2 linked regions of the Homo sapiens genome follow. The gene in region 1 interacts genetically with each later gene. Each region holds a gene or a part of one and is shown on either strand. Other genes may lie near its edges.

Region 1 (3,827 bases):
CTGAAAACCACACACATTTATAGAAAGAAACCAAAGTTTCACAGGGAAGACCTGTGATCTCTGGCTACAGGAGCTGAAATTAGGAACATGAAAGAAACTTGAAGAGAGAAGACATTCAATACTCTAAAATACTTCAGCAAAAATAGTCAAACATCCGTAAACAACTTGTAACAAATCTTTATATGTTGTGTTGCTATGCGGTAAATATTCTTAACTGATTATTATTCAACTCAAAAAAGTGATTTTTATTGCTCACGAATACTTCCCTCTAGATTAGATAAAAGCTTGCTTTCTTTTCCTGGAGTCAAGAGTAAAATGTAATTAATGTAATTAGGGCTTACTCAGTGATTGTTTTTGAATTTCTTAGACTGGGGCATTCCAGCCACTTGCTTGGCTGTTTGCAATTTTCACCCAAAAAACGGTCAAAATAAATTGTAAAACCAGAACGAATAAGTTTGGCTCCTTGTTAACATTTTTATTTGCAGGATGGATGAGGAAACTGATGAAACTGGCTGTGGATTTTAATTATCCCTGGTATCTTTTTCTCCCATCTCCAAGGATCATCAGGACTTAAAAGCATGAAATTGACAACACAACTACTTAAAAACAGAGTAAGGCTGAACTGTACTCAATGTCCAGGGCAACTACAGTACTGAAAATCTCAAGGAACTTACTGTAAACAAACAAGCAACTGTTCAACAGCCTCTTGCATTTGGTACCATGACTAAAATCTACTATTTTCTTCCATTTACCTATCTGGATATTTTTATGAAATGACTACATGTAAAAACCATAATAAAATTTCCCTTAAATGTGTTATAATACAGCAAAACACATCAATGACTATAAATAAAATCTGAAATCTCGAATGCTAAATCCTAATGGAAACATCAAGCCTTAGCATTCACGCTTGGATATCTCGTGCTGAGATAAAAGGCCTCTTTAAAGTGACTAGGTCCCTTTCAGTGGAGTGACAGATGTACATACAAGCAACAATGCTATGGAGGAGTCATGCTTTATCCTAGTCTACAGTTATTTTCTCTGCCAATTTTATTTTACTATTACTATGCTGAATCCAATATCTGTTTCAGCTAGGTAATCAAATTTGGGAACAATTAACACTCCTTTTATTTAAATTAAATGACAGAAGACATTTATTTCCAGGAAGCTTTCTAAAATAGCTTTTGAAGAAGCTAAAAATAACAGTTTAGTATTCACCTGTATTGCTTGTATACACAAGGAATTCATTACAAAACTCAGTGGTAGGAGGAAAAAATAATGGAAGAAAAAGTTACCTGCTTTAGCATTTTAAAGAATAGTTTTGATAACTTCTTAGATCTTGCTTATCTGAAATAGAGCAAAAACTACAATACAGTCATGATAGAATTCTAATAATCACAGCAATTAATGCTTTCATTTTGAACTTTTTCTTCATAAAACATTAATGCTATAAAAATCAGACTGATGACATCCTTATTTAAAAGACATCTTGTACTGGTATCAAAATGTGACTTATTTTAACACCAACTGAAAAAATATAGAGTTTGTATAGTCTATTATTTCAGTGTCATTTTATTATTAAAGTTATTCTGAAGGTTTTGGTAGCAAAATTACTGTTAACAATATAAATACTCTGTAAGTGTTGAAATTCTCTTGAAAGTGTTGAAAGGCGGCAGGCATTCTAGAACGGGATTGTAAGGAAAATCAAATATTCCAATATCCAGGATAATTAGGACACTTGTTGAATTTATATTTGCTTCTTTAACTTCCTTCTGATTTGCCTGGTTTATTTCTCATTTGGTATCATAAAAAGAAATCTAAGTCCAAGCTTTTTTTAGCTGGAGTAATTACTTCCATTTTCCATTATTTTTCTTCATTTTTTTTTTTTCAAATACATGAGAAAACAATCCAAGAATCACTGCAGGAAGAAATGATCATTTAAGCTCAATCATGTTCTTTTGCCTTTTAATTTCATTTAAGAGATTAATATTAGAGTCATAAAAGCTTTACAGTTTCAACACACATACACACAATCACAGAATTAAAAATCTTTACTCCTTAAAAAAAAATGAGTTCCATTTTGTTCAATGTATCACAATCAAATTTTAGTCTAACAAAATCCGGTAAAACTGCTTTCATTAAATAGAGCAGCTGCCACTTACCTTTACATATTTTACGGATGGAACTGAGTTCAGTACTGATCCAAGGATGCTGGCATCAAAGCCCTTACACGGAACTATCCCTAAAGGTTCCGTATTTCCGTAATATACCACCAATCACTCTAAATTTATAATACCCTGTCTTTAACTTGGTATATACCATCTTTTGGGAAAAAAATTATTAATATTTTGAGATGAGATACAAGAATAAAGTCATTCTTGAGGTTCCACCTCTAATATGAAAAAATGGACGCTGTTTGCACATAGCAGCTAGTTTGATACCTCCTGTTCTGTTAGGCTAGCCTTCACACAATGAGCATGCATATACAGCCACAGTTCACTGCATCTGTTTTGAAGTTGCAAAGTGCTGCTCATTCAAGTCACAGATGCTACCATGTTATGCAATGAAACAGTAAAATTGTATGTCCACCATGAGAAAAGGAAAATAAACAATGAAAAAAATGCAGCAAATATAGGCAGTTGGCATTCAGAACACGCCAAAAAGCTAACACTCATGAATCGTCATTATAAGGTTTTCCTTTCCTTAAAAAAAAAGTCTTTCTTTGCATATTTCAAAATGTAACGGTCCCAGAGAATCATGAAGTGCCTTGTCGTTTCTGCTGCTGACTTCTGATGACCTCTAGTTGTTTTTTGCATTGCTGGTAGTAAGTAGAAAGGCTTTTGTTTTCATCTAAAAGCTTTTTATGTTCCTGTACCAGGCGAGATGTATTTTGCTGGTCCTTTTCATCCTGGTCCAGTTCTGCAACTAGTTCTTGCCTACAAACAAATACCACATAATATTACACATGATGGAAAAATTCATACCTTAGTAGCTGATGATGGAAGCTCAATTAATGAGAATTTTTATTCTTGGTTTATCATTTTGCATCTTAGGTACACTAATCAAATATAATTATGGGCTGGGATGGAACTCTCATCTACTTCTAGTGTAATCATACAAATAACATAATCCTTTTATTAAGTAACTGTACTTGGATAATTAGCGAAGCAGATAAAATGGTAAAATAAAAGTTTCAGAAAATTTCATTTTCTATCCTCTTTTTGTGTAGGAAGGATGAAAAAAGGCTGGGAAGGGTTCTATGTGGCTATGGGAAAATATCATGAAGTTTTTATCCTTCACATTCTACTTTTATACTGATTCACATTCTGAAGTCACAATCCTACTTAACTATAGCAGAGAGTGGTAAGCTAATAGCAAATTTGCAATCTAATTAAAATAAATGCTATCCAATTTAAAGCTTTTTCCCATTTTAAAGCAGTGAGAAAAATGACAAAGTACCACTTCTTTTAAAACACTTACATTTGCAAGCACTTTCAGGAAAGACCCTCATTCTTTTATAGTCTGATAAACTTATTTAAGTCCCTCTTATTTGGGAACTATTAAGTATTCCCGAAAAAGATGCATCTTTAGGCATTTCCTAAAGTGAGGTTACTGGATATAAATGAATAATTAATAAAAAGTCCTCAAGCAAAATAACTAACTAATACTACTTCTGAAAGTATTTAAAATTGATTAAAACTGTCATAGTTTTCACAGCCAACACCCTAATCCACCATTTGTTTTTTCCAGCATAGAATACTTCTTTCAAATGATTAAAGTATGGCAAAAGTATAGGTTAAATAAGTGAAATAAGAAATCAAGCTTTT
Region 2 (3,827 bases), on another chromosome or scaffold:
GAATCGCTTAAACCCAGGAGTCGGAGGTTGCAGCGAGCTGAGATCATGCCACTGCACTCTAGCCTGGGCGACAAGAGTGAGATTCTGTCTCAAAAAAAAAAAAATTGTATTGAAAGCTTTATTGAAATATTAAACAAACACAAGCTAGAGCAACCAGATAAGAGAAAGAAATAGAGGGCATCCAAACTGGCAAGGAAGATGTTAAATGATCCTTGTTTGCAGACGATATAATCTTATATTTGGAAAAACCTAGATTCCACCAAAAAACTATTAGAACTGATTAAACAAATTCAGTAAAGTGGCAGGATATGGGCCGGGCGCGGTGGCTCAAGCCTGTAATCCCAGCACTTTGGGAGGCTGAGGCAGGTGGATCATGAGGTCAGAAGATCGAGACCATCCTGGCTAACATGGTGAAACCCTATCTCTACTAAAAATACAAAAAACTAGCCGGGTGTGGTGGCGGGCGCCTGTAGTCCCAGCTACTCTGGAGGCTGAGGCAGGAGAATGGCATGAACCCGGGAGGCGGAGCTTGCAGTGAGCCGAGATCGTGCAACTGCACTCCAGCCTGGGTGACAGAGCGAGACTCCATCTCAAAAAAAGACTCCATCTCAAAAAAAAAAAAAAAAAAAAAAGTTGCAGGATATGGAATCAACATACAAAAATCAGTAGCATTTCTATATGCCAACAGTGAATCATCTGTAAAAGAAATAAAACACACACAGATACTGTGTGCAACTTCTTAAAAGTTATTGTTAAGTCTTCCAGAAAGGATGTGGAAACCACTTCAACAGGCTTTTGCAATCATATATATAAAAAGCCTGTGGTTAGCTTTTGTGGCAAATTGTAGCTTCTGTTTAGTTATATACTGACAGGAGTGACTTCACTTTTTTTCATATAATTGGTTTTATTCTGCTTTTATCTATTTTGGTGCTTCAGCTCTACATTTTGCACCCTGGAGCAACTTCTGCAGGGTGTGGGAGTTTGTTTTATTTTTACATTAACATGGAGTAAAACTGGCTTCTGGGGCACGCACATCTGTGAATGTTGACACATGTAGAGATGTGTGTAACTACCACCACTCTCAGGATACAGGGCAGCTCCACTCCCAACGCACTCCCTCCCCTAATCCCTGGCAACCTATTTTCCACTGCTATGGCTTTGTCTTTTTAAGAATGTCATATTAAACGCCAGGTGCAGTGGCTCACGCCTGTAATCCCAGCACTTTAGGAGGCCAAGAGGGGCTCATCACTTGAGGCCAGGAATTTGAGACCAGCCTGGCCAATGTGGCGAAACCCTGTCTCTACTGAAAATACAAAAATCAGCCGGGCGTGGTGGCGCACACCTGTAATTCCAGCTACTCAAGAGGCTGAGGCACGAGAATCACCTGAACCTGAGAGGCAGAGGTTGCCATGAGCCGAGATTGCACACCACTGCACTCCAGCCTGGGCGACGGAGTGAGACTCTGTCTCCAAACAAAACAAAACAAAACAAAACAATGTCACACAATGTCACATAAATGAAATGATGCAGTAAACATGACCTCCTGAGACTGGCTTCTTTCACTCAACATTATGTCTCTAAGACTCATCCAAGTTGTTAGCCTGTGTGCATCAACAGTCTCTCTCTCTCTTTCATAGAGTAATATACCATTGTTCGGATGTAGTAAAGTTTGTTTATCCATTCATCCACTGAAGGACATTTGGGCTGTTTCGTTTCTTATAACTATGAAGAAATATGCTATAAACATTCATGTACAGGTTTTTGTATGAATGTAACTTTTCATTTATCCAGGGTAAATACCTAGGAGTGACAGGGCTGGCTCATATGGTAAGTATATGTTTAACTTTATAAGAACCTGCCAAACTGTTTTCCAGAGCAGCTGAACCATTTGCATTTCCAATGTTGAGTTCCGGCTGCTCCACGTCCTTGCCACCATGTGGTATTGTCTTTTTCTGAATTTAGATATTCTAAGAGGTGGGTAGTGGTAGCTCATCGTGACTTTAATCTGCACTTCCTAACGGCTAACGACACTGAGTATCTTTCACGTGTTTATTTGGCACCAACTCATCCTCTTTGGTGAAGTGCAAGTTTTTTGCCTATTTTTAAATTAGGTTATTTTCTTAACTATTGTGTTCTGAGAGTTCTTTTTATTTGTAACTTAGCATTTCACTCAGTAGTGTCTTTTGCAGAGCAAAGGTTTTAGTTTAGATGAAGTCCATTTAATCCATTTTTTCTCTTTCATGGTTCATGCTTTTGGAGTCATGTTTAAGAACTCTCTGTCCAGTCCCAAGTTACAAAGAGCACCTATGTTTTTTTCTAAAAGTTTTATAGTTTTATATTTTACATTTAGATCTGTGATCCATTTTGAATTAATTTCTGTGTAAGGTAGGAAGGAGGTTTAGGTCCATTTTTTTTTTCATTCCAATATCCAATCATTCCAACACCATTTGTTGAAAAGACTAGCTTTTCTCCATTGAATTGTGTGGGTCTACTTCTAGACTCTATTCTGTTCCTGTGATCGATGTGTCTACCCCTCCACCAATACTACATTCTTGATTACTGTAGCTTTATAGTAAGTCTTTAAATTGGCTAGTGTGAGTCTCCTTATCTTCTTGCTCTTTTTCAAAATTGTTTTGGCTATTTGAGTTCCTTTGCCTTTTCATATAAATTTTAGAATCAGCTTACTTATATCCACAAGTCTTGTTGGGATTTTTATTGGAACTGCTTTAAATCTACAGATCAATTTGGGGAAAGTAGACATTGTCACTATGTTGAGTCTTCTAATCCATTAACATGGTGTGTCTCTACACTTATTTATGTCTTCACTGGGTGACTTTTATTTATTTATTTTTATTAACACAATTTTACTACAAGGTCTGAAAAGCTACTAACGCCTTCTAATAGCCTTTGAAAATAGACAGTATAACCAAACCCTACTAATGGAAATGAAAAAAAAAAGGAAGATGAAATGGCAGTAAGTGCTAGCTGAGCCAAGTATGTCACAACTAAATTAAAAAAAAAAAAAAGTAGAAATGGCAACAATTCTGCTCAGCTCCTCATGACACCAGGCTTAAATTTAACACTTTCAGTACAAGCAACGCCAAAAGAAAAACTGCTGACCTGGCACAGTGGCTCACGCCTGTAATCCCAGCACTTGGGGAGGCTGAGGCAGGTGGATCACTTGAGGTCAGGAGTTTGAGACTAGCCTGGGCAATGTGGCAAAATCCTGTCTCTACTAAAAATACAAAAATTAGCCAGGCGTGGTGGTGCGCACCTGTAATTCCAACTACTCAGGAGGCTGAGGCAGGAGAATCACTTGAATGCAGGAGGTGGAGGTTGCAGTGAGCTGAGATCACACCACTGCACTCCAGCCTGGATGACAGAGTGAGACTCAGTCTCAAAAAGAAGAAGAAAAACGGCTTCACAGTAACACAAAATTGGGTCTAGTTCTAATCTTGAACTGTTTCATTTTAAAGCAAAATTAATGCCTCTCTTAACATAAATGGGAACTTAGGTCTTCCGGACCCACATATGATATTATGTGATTACAGTACATTAAATCACTACATACATTCTTTCAATAAATATCTGCTGAGCATTTGCAACAGTCTGGCAGTATTCTGGGTACTGCGGACACAGAAGAGAAAACAGAGAGGCTCCTTATTTGAAGCCTCCCTTCTAGGGAGAGAGAGAATTCAAACACACAATACAATAATAAGGCAATCTCAGACAGCGCTACGTGCTAGGAAGAAAACACACCATGGTAATGGGACACAGCGTGATGGGCGGTGGGGGCCTCTAGATGAAGTGGTCAGAAAAGCAGACCT

What was found.
Region 2: of MAP3K7 (region 1) and TAB1, changing one enhances a phenotype caused by changing the other (phenotypic enhancement), as found in Homo sapiens cells (one study listed by BioGRID).

The regions. Positions count from the first base shown.
Region 1 is NC_000006.12:90,513,746-90,517,572, forward strand, and holds part of MAP3K7 (mitogen-activated protein kinase kinase kinase 7), read right to left. Parts: intron 2,937-3,827; coding exon 2,756-2,936; 3' UTR 1-2,755. UniProt on the Homo sapiens protein: Serine/threonine kinase which acts as an essential component of the MAP kinase signal transduction pathway. Plays an important role in the cascades of cellular responses evoked by changes in the environment.
Region 2 is NC_000022.11:39,409,698-39,413,524, reverse strand, and holds part of TAB1 (TGF-beta-activated kinase 1 and MAP3K7-binding protein 1), read right to left. Parts: intron 1-3,827. UniProt on the Homo sapiens protein: Key adapter protein that plays an essential role in JNK and NF-kappa-B activation and proinflammatory cytokines production in response to stimulation with TLRs and cytokines.